2 separate regions of the Homo sapiens genome follow, and region 2 is linked to region 1. Evidence: fine-mapped expression QTL. Tissue or cell type: whole blood. Region 1 holds a variant in brackets; the other region holds the start of a gene. All regions are shown on one strand. Distances are from middle to middle.

Region 1 (11,608 bases):
AAGATGCTCACCATGACACAAACCTGTCATAAATTGTAAGCTGTGACAGGCTGGTAACTACCACCCAGGAGGCAAAGCTAAACTTACTGCAAAGGTAAGAAATATCATTTAAGGTAGATTAATGTGCTTCAACATAGCCAAGCCTGAGTCATGGCACCTTCCAGACACTGAGATTAAAATATGATAACAGATGCCTTTTTCATTCTTTTCTAAGGAAAGTGGTGTTTCTCAACCTGACACCAATTCTTTAAAAAAAAGTGTATAGACTTCTTTCATGTAAAAAAATTAAAGGCAGCAAGAGATGAAGGCATTTTCTTTTGCTTAGATTCCCACTTTTCTTCCCAGTCTCTAAATACAAAAGTGCCTTCTCTTCCCTTAACTACACCCACTCCCCTTTGGGACTGTGTCCTGTGCCTGGTTTAAATACATTCTCTTTGCCAGTGACTCCTAAATTTATGCCTCCAGCCTCTCCCCTGAACTCCAGCCTCACATAGTCACCTTCTTGCCCACTTACTTGAATTTGCAGTTGGCATCTCAGCCTTAACCTGTCCAAAACTGAGCTCCTGAATCTCACTCTCTCTCCTATCCTGCTCCTCCAAGTCTTTTTCGTCTCAATAAATGTTGGGGTTCCAAACCCTGGGCATGTCTTGGCCCCTCATACCCCACACACAATCTGTCAGAAATGCTGTTAGTTCTACCTTCAAAATGCATCCAAGATCTGACCATTTCCCACCACCACCATCGCACGTCTAAGCCACCATCTCTTCTTGGCTGTATGATTGCAAGTGCATCCTACGTGGTTTCTTGGCTTCCACCTTTGCCTCTTTACAGACTATTTTCTATACGAACAGACAGGCTGATCCTTCTATTAATAACACAAGTTAGATAAAAATTCGCCAATGATTCTCCATGCCACGTAGAGTAAATCTAAATCCTCCTCCCCAAGGCGTGAAAGGCCAGATGTGACCTGAGCCCTGTCTTATCCCTATCCTCCTACTTCACTCAGCTTCAGCCGCCTTGGCCTCTTAGCTATTGCCCAAGCATGCCCAGAAGGGCTTTTGCAAATGGTGTGCTTCCTCTCTGGGACAGGCTCCCTGCCCCTCTTCCCTCAGCTAGCTCCAGGGCAGACTCCCTCACTTCCTGCCGGTCCCTCCTTAAAATGTCACCAGAGTCCTTTACTAGCTACCCTATCTAAAATAGCAACATGCCTGCCCCTCTGTAATTTATGTTTCTTGTAGCCTTTGCCATCTGACACATTATATATGTATTTGTGTTGTTTATTCCTGCTAGACTGACAGCTCCAGGAGAATGGGGACATCATTTTATGTCTTCACTGCTGTATTCCCAGTGACTAGAAAAGCACCTGGCACATGGTAGATGCTTGATTAACAGATTTACTGAATATATTTAATACATCTCATAGACACTCTTTTGGGTTTATATTTGTTAAAGTCCCAATTTCTTGTCATATTTAGACAGGGTATGCAGAGGAAATAAAAGCCTTTCCTAATTTCTACTTCTAAACTAACCACCTTTAAAAATTTCAGAGCCTTTCAAGGACTACGGGGTACCAAATGATATAACTCAAAATGTACACAAAAAACAGTACATTTATTTAAAGAAGATATACAAATGGCCAAGAGGTATATGAAAAAATGTTCAACATCACTCAAGATCAGGGAAATGCAAATCAAAACCACAATGAGATACCACCTCACTCCAGTTAGAAAGGCTATTATCAAAAAGACACAATATAACAAGTATTGGTGAGGATGTGGAGCAAAGGGAACTCTTCCACACTATTGGTGGGAATATAAATTAGCACAGCCATTATGGAAAACAGTATAGAGGCTCCTCAAAAAATTAAAAATAGAACTCCTGTGTGATCTTGCAATCTCACTACTGAGTATATATCCAAAGGAAATGAAATCAAGTATGTCAAAGGATACCCGCACTTGCATGTTTCTTGCAGTGCTATTTGTAATAGCCAAGATACAGAATCAGCCTGAGTGTCCATCAACAGATGAATGAATAAAGAAAATGTGGTAAAAATATATAATAGAATAAGTTCTGGTGTTCTATTCCACAGTAGGGTAACTATGATTAACAATAATATATTTTATATTTCAAAATAGCTAGAAGAGAGGATTCTGAATGATCTTACCACAAAGAAATAATACGTGTTTGAGGTGATGGATTTGCTAACTTCCCTGATTTGATCATTATGCAATGTATACAGGTATCAAAACCTCACATTGTACCCCATAAATATGTGCAATTATTATGTGTCAATTAAAAATAATTTAAAAAGCAGTAAAATGTATACTATCCTTGGAAAATAACTTTATACATCAAGAGGAGATATTTAAATTAATATTGTTCTCTACACCCCAAATTCTGCCCTAGTAACTACACCTTTGTATATTGACGAACCATCACTATAGTCCTCCCTTGTTATTTTCTCACTCTTCTGGGAGAGGAAGGTTGTTTTCTGAGACGGGCTGCCATAGGGAAAGAATACCATCGGGCTTCTGGGGTGCTGGTAATGTTCCAGTTCTTGGCTCAAGTGGTGTCTACTTGGGTGCTCACTTTATTTGTTTAAGTGTACATTTACCTTCTGTGAACTTTTTTCTAGGTGTCTTATATTTCAAAATGTTAAAAGTAAATAAATAAATGAACAAACTGTCGTAAAGGAGGTACCTAACTCATACTTTCCTTTCCCTACAAAGCTCTGGATAAATTCTTGTCCATCCTCTACCTGAGTACTCCCTGCGATGAGAAACTCTTTACCTAACAAGGCAGCCCACTTCCATTTTAACTGTATTAACCATCAGAAAGTTCTTCCCTGGGTCAAGTCAAAATCCATCTCTCTAATTTCTACTGGTTTTTCCTGGGACCTCCTATGGAATAACAGAGAGCAAGTCTAATATCTCTTCTATATGACCACCTTCCAACTATTCAAGGATAGCTGCTACCAATTCTCAATAGCCACACTTCCTGTTAAGTTGCCTAGAAGTTTTTAGTTTCTCATTTCTGAGGATCAAAAATCAGATTCTATGATCTGTAATTTATCCTATTCCTACCTTTTACACAAGCAAATTATTTTTCTAAGATATGAACAATGGCAAACCAAGGCTTTTAGTAATAAATAGAATGCAAAAAGCATGATTAAGGAGTGCCTTATTGTTCACTGCAGAGATACTCCATACCACTTTAGGGACAGGCTGTAAACTTTTTTGACTGTATAAACCATTAGTAAAAACATTTGAGCATTCTCTGAATATATGAATATTTATAAATTATATACATTACCACTGAACTAATACATTATGCATATTAGAAAACATATACAAAAATAAAATCTTAAGAGGTGGAGACTTTAATCAAATAGAAAGAAGCTTTAGTGTTTTTTCCTGCATCTCAGTGAATGTCTTTCACATGCCTTGGGGCTTTGTGCTTCACTTTGGAGACCACATTCTTCAGTATTGCAGTCTATACTTTCTATCCTCATTTCTCCCCTATCTGAGGTATTCCCATTTCCTTCAAAATATTCTTGCTGTTTCCTGTGATTTGTGAAACCAACCTCCTAGGGGCTTTGAACCAGCATTGTGTGAAAATATTCAAGGAAGTACCATGTGTGTTGGCTTCCATCCCCCCCCAGAAATATCAGGGGCATGTGCTTTGAATTACCTCCTCTGAATCACCATGAAAATATAATCTGCTACTCAGCTTTGAATAAATCAGATTTCTCTGTGACAAGGAAAGCCTTACATTAAAAAATTCAATCCCCCCCCATTTCCTATAATAAATCGATACTGTTTTTAAGACAGATGAATCATAACATAGGTGCAAAAGAATCAGAATTTTACGTGCCTTATAAAAATATACCTTACAGTTAATAATTACTTAACAGGATGACAAATTAGAGTCAGAGTATCTTAAGTCCTCTTTTTCCAGTACTACACTCACAAAAAAACTTCATTAAAATTTGTTTGAAAAAAAAATACTTACGTGCCCCAATGTACTTTCATGGAACAAGTCTTCTGCATTACACCAAATCCCTGCATTTCTTCAGTATCATCAAAGTAGGAACTTAGGATTCCTAACCCTTCTGGTTCAGTAAATAAGTCAATGTGACTAACTCTGTAATCCTGAAAAAATATAGATGCATAGATAGTAAGAATTGCACCATGTATTTCACTCTCTAGTAAGCTCATTCTTCTTCTTCTTACAACTAATCAAAATGAGCTTTAAATTTACAAACACATTTCACAGAGCACCTGCCATTTTAGCCCTTTCCTGTTTTCATCCATGAATTAATAATACACCTATTTCGGGGCAGACACACTTGCTTTAGTTATATAACTCAGTGTTGCATTCAAGCAAAGATCATCAGAAATGTATTTTATTTGAGTTTTGGAATATATTTCTTTTTCTCATCCTCACTTGGTCCTCTTTGGTCTGGGGTTTTGGTTCCTTTGCTCTGATATAATTATCCAAGCACAGAGACTCTAGTCTGTAGAATGGCTGCTCTTGGAGTCTTCCTCAGCCACTGTTTTGTGTCCATAAGCCCTCTGTTGCTTTGTGGTAACTCTCCTTGACTGAGTAAACCTCTATGATATTGGTTTGATCTAAGTCGTAAAAGCAAAAGCACACATTCATAGTGATTTACAAATCTCTGTACTTTGGTCATTGTTCCATGCCCCGCATATCTGTGGTCCAAACAGTCTTCAAAAGGCCTCTTCTGGTCCAGTGCCTAAGCGTTAATGGAATATTTATTGAAACTCATCTATGCAGCTGAGTTGGGTGAACTGAGTGACAGAAGAAATATTAACACTTGAATAAGCTCAGATGAGGCTTTTCAAATATTATCAAAAGGAACAACTCTAATGAGCTAAAAAGGTAACCTTGAAAATATACGCTGTGACTTATGTTTTATGTTTCAAGAAACCATGCACACGATCTGTGAAGAAAATATAATCCATGACACACTGGGAGCCATGACATATCATAGCCCTTTAACATGACACCATTCAGAAAAATGTACCCCAAGGAAACAAATTAGAAAATTATAAATTACTGGCCGGGCACAGTGGCTCATGCCTGTAATCTCAGCCCTTTGGGAGGCCTAGGCGGGCAGATCACCTGAGGTCAGGCGTTCGAGAGCAGCCTGGCCAATATGGCAAAACCCCGTCTCTACTAAAAACACAAAAATTAGCCAGGTGTTGTGGCATGTGCCTGTAATCCCAGCTACTCTGGAGGCTGAGGCAGGAGGATCACTTGAACCCCTGGGAGGCAGAAGTTGCAGTGAGCTGAGATTGCACCACTGCACTCCAGCCTGGGCGACAGAGCAAGACTGTCTCAAAAAAAAAAAAAAGAAAATTATAAATTATTAAATGCACAAAAACATTCTCGTGGCATTACTTATAATAGTAAAAAACTAGAAACAACCTTAAGATTCACTGAAAGAAGAAATAATAAATAAATAATGGTACCTCATTTATGTACTAAACAATAAATAATGTATCATTTCAATGGAATATGATATTCAGCTAAACCCTAAACCTGTGGTAACATGAAAAGCATTTGCTACAGTAAGTCTGCTATTATCAGACAAAACAAGAGATCTCGTTTCCCTTCCCCATCTTCCTGAATGCACCCAAATCCTCACCCCACCAGATTCTGATACCTTCCCCAGTTGCCAATCACAAAGATGTTACCAAGGGGAGTGTGATTTTCAGGAAAGTGGTATAAAGAGAAAAAAAGGATTGAGAACCACAGTGTTAGGTGAGAAGGGTGGAACAGCATTGTACCTGTATTATGATTATTACTGCAGAAAAAGCAGACTAGAATATGGCCAACAAAGGGTAGAAAATTCAAAAAATAAAAGGGGAGGGGACACTTCATGATGGTGGGAATCAGATGATCTTTTTAAACATTGCTTTATTTCCAATATTATTTGAGCAGTAAATAAAAACTCTAGGCAAAATATTCCACTAATGAGGACATTTTGAAATAGGGTTTCTCAAGTCTTACTTAGTCTTCTCGTATTATATACTTAAAACAAATAAAAGATAAATCATTTAGCATACCAATTACCACCTAAGTTACTCAGAAATGTTGACTCAGGAAGTAAGCGATGCTTTCCTCTGCCAAAACTGTTACTCATCCTTACTCATTCTCATGTAAGAATGTTCCTTTTCTCTGTATTGCATCTTGACACTCGTCTCCATTAAAACTTGGGATTTTAATTTTCTACTTAGAAGACATCATTAATTGCATTTTTAAGGTAAAGAATCATCAAATCCTAAGAGCCACAAAGAAAGACTCTGACAACACTTTCCTCATCAAATAACAAGAAACCAAGAAATTTTACCTCACCCATAAAGTGGCCTCAAATAGAGTAAATAATATTTTGTTAAACCCACATGAAATCCCAGAGTTAATCAACCAAATTATTTTTGGATTATTTATTTTTCCAAAATAGAATTCCTATAAACCACTCAAAGTAATCAGAACTCATACAGCAAACAAAAACACTAAATAAATGAAAAACCTGTTCATAGAGGCAGAACTCATTTAAACCAAGTTACCAGGTAAAATATATTTGGAAGATGGGAATAGAAGGACAGGCATAAAAGATCTACCTAAAGGGTTTATTGTGAAAAATTATCTAACCAATTATGTTTCTTTTTAAATTATTTAAAGTGTACAAATACTTAAAATACAGAAAATATATCCATAAGGCACCAAATATGTTTCCCAATCACATATTTCGTAAAATGATCATTTCCCTTAAAGTAAGAATCCATAAATATTAGCTGAATAAATAAAATCCATATTTACCACAACCTACCTGAACCACATGTCTGATGGAACCAATCACCACTGGCTTATCAGACTCTGCTTCTTCGTGCCTTTCCA[A/C]AATGTCTTCTATACCCCAGAGACCAGAGAGTTCCAATTCTCCTTCTTCTAAGGGGATGGAGTGCCCTTCAAAATTTGGTTGCTCATACAAAATCCAACTAACAATAAAACACAGCAAAACCATTAGTCAGTCTTCGTGAGAGAGGTTTTGATTACTCAAATAACCTGGCTAATTGCCATTTTATATATATATATAGAATATTAGCAGCCAATTATCTAGCAATTAAAATAGCTTAAACTCTCCCTAACACTAATATTTTACTGGGTATAATTAAGCCTCTGATAACTCATGAACTATATCAGGATCTTAGAGAACTTTGGAGTTACCTATATGAATGCTATAGAGCTACTAATGTTCTAAGTAATTGCCAAGTGGTAGAGACTTATGATAATATGTCAGATAAATGGATGTTTACTGTACTAGGTTTTTTTTTTTTTGTCTCTTTTTTTTTTTTTTTTTTGGATACAGAGTCTTGCTCTGTTGCCCAGGCTAGAGTGCAGTGGTGCGATCTCGGCTCACTGCAACCTCCGCCTCCCTGGTTCAAGCAATTCTCCTGCCTCAGCTGCCCTAGTAGCTGGGATTACAGGAATGTGCCACCAAGCCTGGCTGATTTTTGTATTTTTAGTAGAGACTGAGTTTCCCCATGTTGGCCTGCTGATCTCGAACTCCTGGCCTCAAGTGATCTGCCCACCTCGGCCTCCCAACGTGCTGGAATTACAGGCATGAGCCACCATGTCTGGCCTTTTGTCTCCTTATATGTGTAGAAAACATTTCTCTTAGAGAGACTTTAACTTACATATTACAGTCATATCAATGAATATGTTGGCACAAAAGACTATAGATATGGTAATGGAAAGCATTTTAATAATATTCTTCCCAACAACAGCCAAACACTAAAGAAAAACCTCATGTCAATATATGGCAGTGTAAATGCTTATGCTTTCAAGAAAAAGAAGCCGACAAAAGTTGCAAAAGAAAGGAAAAAGTACTGTTCCATAAAAACAAAATTTGTGTAAAAAATTGCCACTATTATATATTGTATATTAGTGGCCAATTCTCTAGCAATTAAAATAGCATTTGTCTTCAAATTTAAGAATAAAAGCAAATCTTGTTTTTCTCATGACTATGTTGGATATATAGGAAAAAATATTAAAACACCTAAAAATCTAATAGGAAAGCTGCTGCATATTTAATCAAATGGAGACCAAAAGAAAAGCTTATGAATTTGTAAATCCATAAACATTCAGAGGTCTACCCTCTTTACTTCAAACAAGTTTACAAGTAGGCACCAAAAGATAACTATTATGCCAGATCAGCGATTTCTTTTTTTAAGCTGCCTTTCTCTACCCAACTTCCTGTGTATCTCCAAGAGGCAATGAAGCTGATAAAATGATTTCAGAAACTGTCAAAATATTTATTTTTTTCACCAGTTTCTTTACTTAGCCAAAACAATCTTTTGTGGAAATATTGGAAAGTAAATTAAATTTTAAGTTAGTGCTGCATTGAACTGTCATTAAAAAGTTAGAAAAATGCCTTTCTTTATAGATTATTTTTGTTTTACCTTATAGATTTTTTTTCCTTATTGTTTCTTTACTTTGCCTTTTCCTACGTGTTCTCAAGTTTCCTTATAGGTTTTTGAAAAGTCGTATCTGGCCTATCAACATAACTAGTGCAATTCTTATCAACCTCATTTAAAGGTCATCAACCAAGAGTATGTTATGGGCCCTGATATATGACTAGTCCAAAACAATATTATGGGGAAGCATGGGAAAAAGAAGCTTGTTCTACTGTATTGTTCTGATTTTTCTCCCATAAACATATATCACTGCTATAATCAGAAACATGATTTAAAATGACATTGTTAAGATATGAATCCCTTATCTTACCACGAGTAGTATTTCCTGTGCTTTTCATTGCTAAAGCCATAATTTTAAACTAGTAGTGAGGACTAAAAAGTTAATTAAGTATGTAAAACTCAAACACTTGACATCAGGAACTTAAAGTGCCATTCTTACCATCCTCTAACAACTTTTATGAGTATCACTGGAGAGAGGCTCCAAGAACTGCAATCCTGAATGTCACTGAAAACTTCAATGCACTTCTCAGAGACGTCGGGTTCACTATATATCACTACCTGCAAGAAAACGAAAGTGGTAGCACACTTTGTTGTACTCTGTCAGACCAAAATAGAATCAAGACTAGAAACAGAAAATAATCTTACCTTTCCAGGTCGGGGATTGAGTTTATTTTGGACACTTCCTCTAAGTGTCTGCAATCAGATGAACAAAAACACAACAAATAATTACAACTTCACATAACGATCCTCTTTTTCCACCCACGATCCTGTAGGTAGATCACACTTTTCCCACATTGTATCGATTTTGAAACCTCCACTCTAATGGATGCTAAAGTTGTATTAAAACTCTTTGAGTTTATGCTTTTAAATTGAGGTTTTTTCACCTCTAACTGAATTTGCCATTTCAATTTCTCCTAATTTAAATGTCTAGGCTATTTCCACCAATGCTAGAAAATTCAGGGCACATATGTTTCATGTCAGTTCACAGAATAGGAACTCAGCTAAGAGATTCTAATTCAAATAATATCAGTATCATCTCAAATAAAGATAAATTAGAATATATTAATCACTTACCTAGAAAGAGCTGAATCAATTTTGTGTTCATATACATACCCTATCTGAATCCATATAAATATTGTTTTCTCATAGTAAATCTACAATCATATAACAACCACTAGTCTAAATAGAAGTGTTTATGGTATATATGGTATATTTCATAATGTACATTGCACATAGTATATTTAATCCCCCTTTTTTTTCTTTTGAGATGGAGTCTGGCTCTGTCACCAGGCTGGAGTGCAGTGGCATCATCTTGGCTCACTGCAACCTCCGCCTGGGTTCAAGTGATTCTCCTGCCTCAGCCTCCCGAGTAGCTGGGACTACAGGCATGTGCCACCAGGCCCAGCTAATTTTTGTATTTTTCTTTTAGTAGAGATGGGGTTTCACCATGTTGGCTAGGATGGTCTCGATCTCTTGACCTCGTGATCCGCCTGCCTCAGCCTCCCAAAGTGCTGGGATTACAGGTGAGAGCCACCGTGCCCGGCCTAATCCCGCTTTTTTGATAGACAAAATACATTTCAATATGGCTCCAAAACTAATCATTTTCAAGACCATCTGACAAGACCAGTAAAACCAGAAATGCATAAGATAATAAAATAGTAATTATACATGTAAAAATATTACAAAACGTGAACTACTTTCAGTGCTGACCAGGATGCCTATTTTAGGAACTGCCTTTGCTCTGACTGCTCTTGCATCACACCAGAGTGTGATATGCCCAGAAGACCACAAAAGGCTGGGGCGCAGTGCCTCACACCTGTAATCCCAGCACTTTGGGAGGCTGAGGTGGGCAGATCACCTGAGGTCAGGAGTTCGAGACCAGCCTGGCCAACATGGCAAAACCCCGTCTCTACTAAAAATACATAAATTAGCTGGGCGTGGTGGCACTCACTTATAATCCCAGCTACTTGGGAGGCTGAGACATGAAAATCGCTTGAACCTGGAAGGCAGAGAGGTTGCAGTGAGCTGAGATCATGCCACTGCACTCCAGCTTGGGTGACAGAGCGAGATTCTGACTCTAAAAAAAAAAAAAAAGGCCATAAGGGCCCCCCTAGAGCCTTATCAGAAGCCAGATGGTATATACCTATTTATGTATATATACACATTAGAAGTAGATAAACTGAAGAAAAAGCCTAAAATTTAAAACAAAATTCAGGTAAAACCTTCATGATTGAATATACAATCAATAAAAGCCCAGGACCTAAAGAAAGACCATATTTTTTAATCATAAAAAGGCCTAGAAAAAGTATAAAGATTTTATTTTTCCTTTTTATGTCATTTGACTTGATTTTCATAGGGAAACTGTATATTCTGTTATCAACTTTGTCAGACTGTAGTTAAATAAGGAAAGCGATCTAAGAACAATTAAAAAGAACAAAGTAGTAATGAATGGGAAGTGGACCAGTGGAAATTTTGTGCTTGAGAGAAATAGTTAATATTTCTATTATATAACTATTAATAGAAATAGTTAGAATTTTATGATTTCTGAGTACCATAGGCTGATTCAGTCTTATTTGTTTATAGCAGTGGTTCTCAAAATGTGGTTCAGAGGCCACTGCGGGGGTCTCCAAGATACTTTCAGGTAGTCCATGGGGTCAAAACTATTTTCATAATAAGAAGAGGTCACCTGCCTTTTTCATCTCTGTCTCAAATGTCCAGCGGAGTACAAGGCTCCATGATGTGTGATGACATCGTTGCTCTGAGCACTGGTGCAGTGTGCACTTCTACTTTCTGGTGTTTTACAATTTTCTCAGCAATTATTTATAATATAATAAATTCTGATAGGCAGAACCCATACAAACAAAAGCTCGTTGGGGTTCTCAATCATTTTTAAACATAAAGGGTCCTAACACCAAACATCTGAAACCCAAACTTTATGAAAGTTTATGAAATCACATGAAAAAGGGATCTGCACCTCTGCTGGAAACCCAACCATATATTTTGAAAGAGCTTGCAACATCACATTCTCTGACAGGATTGTAGTAAAAGCCAATACAATACATTGAACCATGCTGCAGTACCCTGTACAGACGAGGAAAGGTGCAAGG
Region 2 (8,304 bases), 100 kb before region 1:
TATTTTTAGTAGAGACGGGGTTTCACCATGTTGGTCAGGCTGGTCTTGAACTCCTGACCTCGTGATCTGCCCGCCTCAGCCTTCCAAAATGCTGGGATTATAGGCGAGAGCCACTGTGCCTAGCCAGAAAAGAATGGTCTTTAAAAAAAGTTTGCCTTGGTAAGTGCTGAAGGTACAGGAGAGCTCTTGAGGGCTGAGTGTTCCAGTGATGGGTACTCATCCTCTCTTTAACACAGTCCATTCATGCTTTTGCCTTCTTGCTTCTTGAAACTGCGTATCAAGATCACCAGCAAGCTCCACATAGCTAAACCCACTGGTCAGCACCAGCCCTCATTTTATAGTACTCCTTAGTAGCATTCAACACAAGTGACCACTCCCTCCTTGAAACACTTCTTCTCTGTGTTCAGGACACCATGCCATCCTGGTTTTCCTCCTGTCTCACTGGGCATTCTTTCAAGTCTCTTTTGCTGGCTTTACTTCCTATTGTTGACCTCCAAAATGTTGGAATTTTAGGTCTTCTTCTATTTTTACACTCAACTTCCCAGGTAATCTCATCTGGCCCTATAGCTTTAATTATCTTCTACACTCTGGCCAATGTATATCCTCTTACCTAGCCTCTTTTCTGAGCTCTGAACTCTTGTATCTAGTTGCTTAACTGATATCTTCACTTGGATATCTAGGAGGCATCTAAAAATTAACACATCCAGAACAAAACTCTTGATAACCTTCCCCTTCCAAACATGTTCCCTTTAAGGTTTTCCCATCTTGATGTCACATTTCCCCAACTGCCCTAGCCCAAAACCTAAGTATCCTCCTTGATTCTTCTCTTTTCCTCAAACCCCATATCCAAAACATCTGCAAACCCTGACTTAAAAAACAATATCCACTCCCATTATCTCGCCAATGCAACAGGCTTCTAATTGGTCTTCATGCTTTCTTGCTTTTTTTTTTTGAGACAGGGCCTTGCTCTGTTGCCAAACCTGGAGTGCACGGATGTGATCTCGCCTCACTGCAGCCTCAACCTCCGAGGCTCAAGTGATCCTCCCACCTCAGCCTCCTGAGCAGCTGGGACTAAAGGCATGCACCACCATGCCCAGCTAATTTTTGTATTTTTTGTAAAGACAGGGTTCGCCACATTGCCTAGGCTGGTCTTGAACTCCTGAGCTCAGACAATCAGCCTGCCTCAGCTTCCGAAAGTGTTGGGTTTAAAGGCGTGAGCCATTGCACCCGGTCAGTCTTTGTGCTTTATTACTTGCTTTTCTAAAGATCATGGTCCCTTAAGAGTCATCTGAAGGAGCTTTTAAAATTTTAACTCAGATCATGTCCACAGATTCAAAACTTTCCAGAAGATTCCCATTACACTTGGAATAAAATCCATACTCCCTACTGTGGCCTCAAAGGTTCTCCACAATTTGGCTCCTACCTGTCTCCCTAACCTCTTCTCTCATTGCTCTCCTCATTCACTTCTCTCCAGGCATATTGGCCCTTTTGCTATTCCTTGAACATGTTAAGCTTGCTCTTGTTTTAGGGTCTTTGTACTTACTGTTCCATCTGCCTGGAACACTATTCTCTCAGATCTGCCCAGTGTTCCCCCTTCATGCCCTTCTGGTCTCTATTAAGTATTATTCACTCAATCAGAGAAATCTTCCCTGACCACTCTAGCTAAAATGTCCAGCTCCCCCAACTAGTTCTCATACTATGATCTACTTAATTTTTCTCCATAGTACTCATACTACCTGAAATTATATCATTTACTTTTTTTTTTTTTTAAAGTGTTTAATGGCTGCGTTTCCACACAAAAAAGTTAGGTTTCAGGAAGCAGGAGCTTCTGTCCGTCTTTAATGCTACCCCCCAGTACTTGGAACACAGAGGTACTCACTAAATGTTAGTTGAATGAATAACAGTTGTTTAAAATTTAGAATCGATTTCCCTATAGAACAATGATTAGTTTTTCTAAAGTTGAAGCTCCAAGAAGCCAAATGAATATATCATTCTTTAAACTTTAGGATTAATAATATTAGCCTGGTGCCTCACTCCTAGAAACACTGGGATCATGCCACAAAAGACAAAGGTAAAAGTGAGATTTCCTCCCCCTTTCTGAATGTACTTGGGTAAAATTTACAAATGGGAATTTTACCTATTTGGCATTTTACCTCCTTTTTGTGCCTATTCCCAGGACTCCTGTTACCATAAGCTTCCACTCACATCCCCCAAATTGCTGCCATCATTTCCAGCCCTTCTCCCTAATTCCCCGCAAATTTCCCCCTCTTCAACTGATTATCTCAATTAAGGTATTATGAAGAAATTTGAACTGTTATAATTTACAACAATGGGTGGAAAAATTGTTCAACCTTCCCAGGCATCTGTACATATTTAAAAGAGAATTAAATTAAAAGATAATTTGTATGAATTAATTAATCTCTAATTGGTAGAATTTAGGGCAACAGTACAGTGATGTGGAAAAAATACAAAGTAGACAGAAGGTAGTTTTAGAGCTGGGGAAATAACCACCAAATATTTTGCATGCTAGGCATTAATCAGTATTTGTTAAAGGAGTGATAAAGTAAAAGCAATCATGCCAAGGCAACCTCTGGATTTTCCCCTGGGTCAGCTCTCCTAAATAGTTCTTTTCTCCCCCCATGCGGCAAAAGTTGTTTTTCACAATGGCTAACTCAATGACACCAGAGAGAAGTAGCACTAAAAAAGGTAGCACTTAAGGAGCTATGACAGTTGTCAAAATCAAAATAGAGTGACTTGTGTTAAAATCCTGACAAATGGAGCCAAGGAAGGTCAAGAAGAGAGGGTTCTCACGCATGAATGCCTGATAAGAAGAACTATCACACTCCAGCTGACAAGGGATTGATAACCGAAGTATATAAGGAGTTCAAACAACTCAACAGGAAAAAATCCAATAATCAAATTAAAAATGGGCAAAAGATTGGAATAGACATTTCTCAAAAGAAAGACATATAAATGGCAAACTGGTATATGAAAATGTGCTCAACATCACTGATCATCAGAGAATTGCAAATCAAAACTACAATGAGATATCATCTCACTCCAGTTAAAATAGCTTCTATCCAAAAGACAGGCAATAATGAATGCTGGTGAGGATGGAGAAAAGTTGGATGAAATGTAAATTACTACAGCCACTATGGAGAATAGTATGGAGGTGCCTTAAAAACCTAAAAATAGAACTACTGGTTGGGCACAGTGGCTCACACCTGTAATCCTAGCACTTTGGGAGGCTGAGGGAGGAGGATTGCTTGAAGCCAAGAATTCAAGACCAACCTGGCCAACATAGTGAGACCCCATCTCTAAAAAAAAAATAATTAAAAATAAATAAATAAAAATAGAACTACCATACGATCCAGCAATCCCACTGCTACGTATATATGCACCTAAAAGAAAGAAAATCAACATAGCAAAGACATATCTGCTCTCTCATGTTTATTGCAGCACTATTCACAATAGCCAAGATTTGAAAGCAAGCTAAGTATCTACCAACAGATGAATGGATAGAGAAAATGTCCTACATGTACACAATGGAGTACTATTCAGCCATAAAAAGAACGAGAGCTTGTCAATTGCAACAACATGGATGGAACTGGAGGGCATTATGTTAAGTGAAATAAGCCAGGCACAGAAAGACAAACTTCCCATGTTCTCACCTATTTGTGGGAGCTAAAAATGAAAACAATTGACCTCGTGGAGGTAGAGTAGAATGATGGTTACTAGAGGCCTGAAAGGGTAGTAGTAGGGGTGGGAAGTGGGGATGGGTAATGGGTACAAAATATAGTTAGACAGAATGAATAAGATACAGTATTTGATAGCACAGCAGGTGATTACAGTCAACAATAGTTTATTGTACGTTTAAAAATAACTAAAAGAGTATAACTGGAACGTTTGTAACACAAAGAAATGATAAATGCTTGAGGTGATGGATACACCATTTACTCTGATGTGATTATTATGCATTGTATGCCTGTATCAAAATATCTCATGTGCCCCATAAATACATACACCTACTATGTACCCATTAAAATTTTTTTTTAAAAACAATCATAAGACTGCAAAAAACACAACCTTGCACAAAGGCCATTGCAACCTTCCACACACACGAGTACTTCTGTAAGAATGTCTGTCCAGCAACTGGCCATCCAACCTTGGACTGATGCCACCTTTGTGACTGATCCTTGTGGCCAAGGATAACTGATTCAAAATAATTTAAGTAATCCTTCTCATTCTGTCTTTAAAAACATCCCTTGCCTCAACCTTCTTGAATAGGCACATAGTTTACAATATTACACATATTCCCATTGCATTGCTACTCCAAAATAAATATTTTCTTTAGAGTCTCTTTCTGTTACTTAGATTGACAGTGGAAAAGGCAGAAAAAGGAAATAACATATTTTTATAGGTTGTATTTAATTTTAAAACAAGTTTTGGGTGTTGTCTGTTTATTTATTTTTATTTTATTTATTTATTTTTTGAGACGGAGTCTTGCTCTGCCGCCCAGGCTGGAGTGCAGTGGCGTGATCTTGGCTCACTGCAAGCTCCGCCTCCCGGGTTCACGCCATTCTCCTGCCTCAGCCTCCCGAGTAGCTGGGACTACAGGCGCCCGCCACTACGCCCGGCTAATTTTTTGTATATTTAGTAGAAATGGGGTTTCACCGTGTTAGCCAGGATGGTCTCGATCTCCTGACCTCGTGATCCACCCGCCTCGGCCTCCCAAAGTGCTGGGATTACAGGCGTGAGCCACCGCGCCGGGCATATTTATTTTTTAAAGAACAAATTTGATTCGACGCAATTTAAAATGATAACATAATAATGTATTTTGGGGGAAGAACTATTATTTAAAGCCTGTGGATTTCAATTTCTCATTATATATTACAGCTATCTATAATTATAATTCCACGCTGCCAGCTGGGAAACAAACAAAACGACAACTTCTAGGGTGGAATAAAAAGGAAGATGGAAGGCAGTTTAGGTCATCAGCGCCTACTTCTTACCAGAAATCACCTGGAGCCTCCATTAAACCATACTCCCGAACTTACCACACAGCTCTAATTAAGTCTAGAGTGGGGCATAGTTTTAGTTTCAACAGGTGCTTTATGTGACTCTGATAGCAATGGGCCTGCAGACAGTTCTAAGGTTGAGTGACGTGAACCAGGAAGCAAAAAGACCCGAATTAAAGCTATAACAGCAGAAATAACGTAAGAGGGCAGATTCCAGCCATATCTGCAAGATAGAATGAAGAGGGCTTAGTGATTTATTGGATATGAAAGATGAGGAAGAATCTAAAGGCAAATGAGATAATAGTTGTGCCATTAAAAAGAGTCTATTAAGAATTCAGAAATACCAGAGCTTTTTTAAGACGGGGGTTGAGAGGTAAGTCCTGTTACAATGATTACTTCAACACCGATTAAAGTGAATTTGAGGGTGCTTATGTGACATTTAGAAGAACTGCCCAGAAAGCATTCACAAATACAGTCTAGAATTCAAACACGACGTCCAGGACATGGAGACACGGGTTAGGAAATCACTGGTATCTTAGTGGTAGGTAAATCCTAGAGAACGAATTCTTTGAAAAAAGCCAAAAATTACTCATTTGAATTTTGCAAACTACAGTTTCGCCGGGCTTCTTAGCGACAACTGCAGCTAAGTGTCGGGGACAGAAGAGAGACTGAAGTGGCCCCGCAAGCCCCCTTTGGCAAAGCCCACTCCGAGACCATCCGGATCCCGACCTACACCAGAGCAAATGTCTAATGGTGAGAAGCCGCTTCACCACCCTACAGATCCGCGGTGCAGAGATTTCCCTGCTAAGGTCCTAACTCCTGAATGGGTACGGCGAGTACACCCGAAGAATCGAAAGGTACTTATCCCCCACTCAGTTCTAGAGGAAGCAGCGAGGTGGGCCAAGATGCGTGGTAAGGCCCAGGGACTCTTTGTCAACGAAGTCCGTTAAACTTTCCGCCCTCCCGGGGGCCTCAGCGGGCCAATTCCACTCACTTCTCGGAGGCTCCGGCCCAGCATGGTCCTCGTGCCCAGCCTGCCACCACAGGAGCCAGGCAAGGGGGAAAAAGAGGTCACCGGTCGCTAGTGATGTTACATGGGCGCAGCCATCTTTAATTGTCACTGAGCCCTTCAACACCGAGTACTTGGATTGGTTGAATTGCAGCCCGAGGAAATGATCTTTGTAGGCGATTGGTTGGCGCCGCAAAGCCATCCCGGCGGCTAAGGAGAGCGGGCAGGCAAGGAGATTCCGGGCCAGGGTCGCGGCGGCAGTCGGCAAGCGTTCGATTCTCTGGCGTTGGATCGCGAGCGGTGTCTGCTTGTCCCGCCGAGGGCTCCCAGGACAGGGCAGGGATCTAGGGGGTTTGCGCACCTGCTTTTTAATGCCCCGCCCCCCCTTTTTTTTTTAAAGTGGAGGGGGTGAAAGTGAGGGAGGAGAATGGACAGAATACTGACTGGAACGTTAATTCGAGCATTTCATATGCGAAGAGCGGAATAACAGTTCCGTATTCTTCTTTCAGTTTCTCCATTAGATTAGCTTCATTTTCGAATGCTCCGTTTTGCATGCTTAATTTTGAAACTAGCCCGTGGTTTGGCAGAATTTGACTGAATTCAGGGGTGAGAGTTTGATCCAGTCCAAGTGTATTTGAATTTGAGCACGCAGTTCAACCAGTGTTTACAATGGAATTTCTGAAGACTTGTGTACTTAGAAGAAATGCATGCACTGCGGTTTGCTTCTGGAGAAGCAAAGTTGTCCAAAAGCCTTCAGTTAGAAGGATTAGTACTACCTCTCCTAGGAGCACTGTCATGCCTGCTTGGGTGATAGATAAATATGGGAAGAATGAAGTGCTTCGATTCACTCAGAACATGATGATGCCTATCATACACTATCCAAATGAAGTCATTGTCAAAGTTCACGCTGCCAGTGTAAATCCTATAGACGTTAATATGAGAAGTAAGTTTTCAAAAGACATTGTTACCTTTTTTAAAAAAATCACTTTCATAAGGTATGCCGTTTTAAAAAATTGACTACGCTTCTTTGGTTTACATAAATGAATCATTTAGGTTTTTAACAATACCTCTGCAAATATTTCCAAAATTTTTGAAATTGCAATGGCCAGGGAATCCTTCTGGCCATTTGTATTGACAAAATATAAGCTTGATTGTTTTCATGCGTCCTTAAATATGTAAGTTCAGACTTGAGAACTGTGTCTGTAGCTAACTTTTTTTTTTTTGAGACTGAGTCTCACTCTGTCACCCAGGCTAGAGTGCGGTGGCCTGATCTCAGCTCACTGCAACCTCCGCATCCTGGGTTCAAGCAATTTCTCCTGCCTCAGCCTCCCGAGTAGCTGGGATTACAGGCGCATGCCACCACACCGGGCTAATTTTTTGTATTTTTAGTAGAGATGGGGTTTCACTATGTTGGTCAGGCTGGTCTCGAACTCCTGACCTCAGGCGATCCTCTGCCTCCGCCCCCTAAGTGCTGGGATTACAGACGAGCCATTGCGCCCTGCCTATGTTTGTAGCTAAATTTCTGTCCAGGGAACTTTGTGGTATTCTGAGATCCGTCACAGGCTTCGGAAGTATAGTTGTTTCCTAGTCAGTTTAGAATTTATGGGGTTTTTTGTTTGTTTTTGAGACAGAGTCTCACTCTATCGGCAGGCTGGAGTGCAAGGGCGCTTTCCTGGCTCACTGCAACCTCCGCCTTCCGGGTTCAAGCGATTCTCCTGCTTCAGCCTCCCAAGTAGCTGGGACTACAGACATGCGCCGCCACACCCAGCTAATTTTTGTATTTTTATAGAAACGGGAGTTTCACTGTGTTGGTGGGAGGCTGAGGCAGGAGAATCGCTTGAATCCGGAAGGCGGAGGTTGCAGTGAGCCAAGAACGCGCCCTTGCACTCCAGCCTGCCGATAGAGTGAGACTCCATCTCAAAAAAAAAAAAAAAAAAAAAAAAAAAAGCATTGAAATGACTTTACTGTGATTGTCTCATGAAGTCTACGTTTGTATTCTTTGTTTTGAAGTAGTAATTGCTACTACCAGTTGGGCATGCCGTTTTCCTTTATTCTTTTTATATTAGGCTTGAAGAGAATTCAGTTTTTTATAAGATATGTCTTTTAGTGGTAAGTTTTACTCAATGATCAGCATGTTTTTTCATCTCCTTTGATTGTAAGTTCTTTCAAGATTGATCCCATGCTTTGTCAACCTGTTTCAGTGCTTCACATACGCAGTTGTCATTCAGTCACTATTTCTATGCCTTTTTATATTTTTGTTCTGACTTAAGATAACAA

What was found. PIP is the estimated chance that this variant, and not a neighbour inherited with it, causes the effect. A credible set is the group of variants that fine-mapping cannot tell apart.
Region 2: QRSL1 starts here. The variant in region 1 is the best candidate, but not a certain one, in a credible set for the expression of QRSL1 in whole blood (TOPMed, PIP 0.90).

Annotation. Positions count from the first base shown.
Region 1 is chr6:106,522,719-106,534,326 of GRCh38, reverse strand. It overlaps CRYBG1 (crystallin beta-gamma domain containing 1), which reads right to left. Exons shown (of 22, transcript NM_001371242.2): 5 at 9,147-9,194; 6 at 8,941-9,059; 7 at 6,857-7,022; 8 at 4,012-4,151. Among named protein-coding and RNA genes, the nearest start is that of RTN4IP1, 100 kb to the left of the region's middle. The variant A/C (reference allele first, on the strand shown) is at 6,925.
Region 2 is chr6:106,627,414-106,635,717 of GRCh38, reverse strand. QRSL1 (glutaminyl-tRNA amidotransferase subunit QRSL1) reads right to left here and starts at 6,140. Exons shown (of 11, transcript NM_018292.5): 1 at 6,013-6,140. The coding sequence starts at 6,036. It overlaps RTN4IP1 (reticulon 4 interacting protein 1), which reads left to right and starts at 6,220. Exons shown (of 9, transcript NM_032730.5): 1 at 6,220-6,970. The coding sequence starts at 6,697. RefSeq lists enhancers at 5,909-5,968, 5,999-6,138.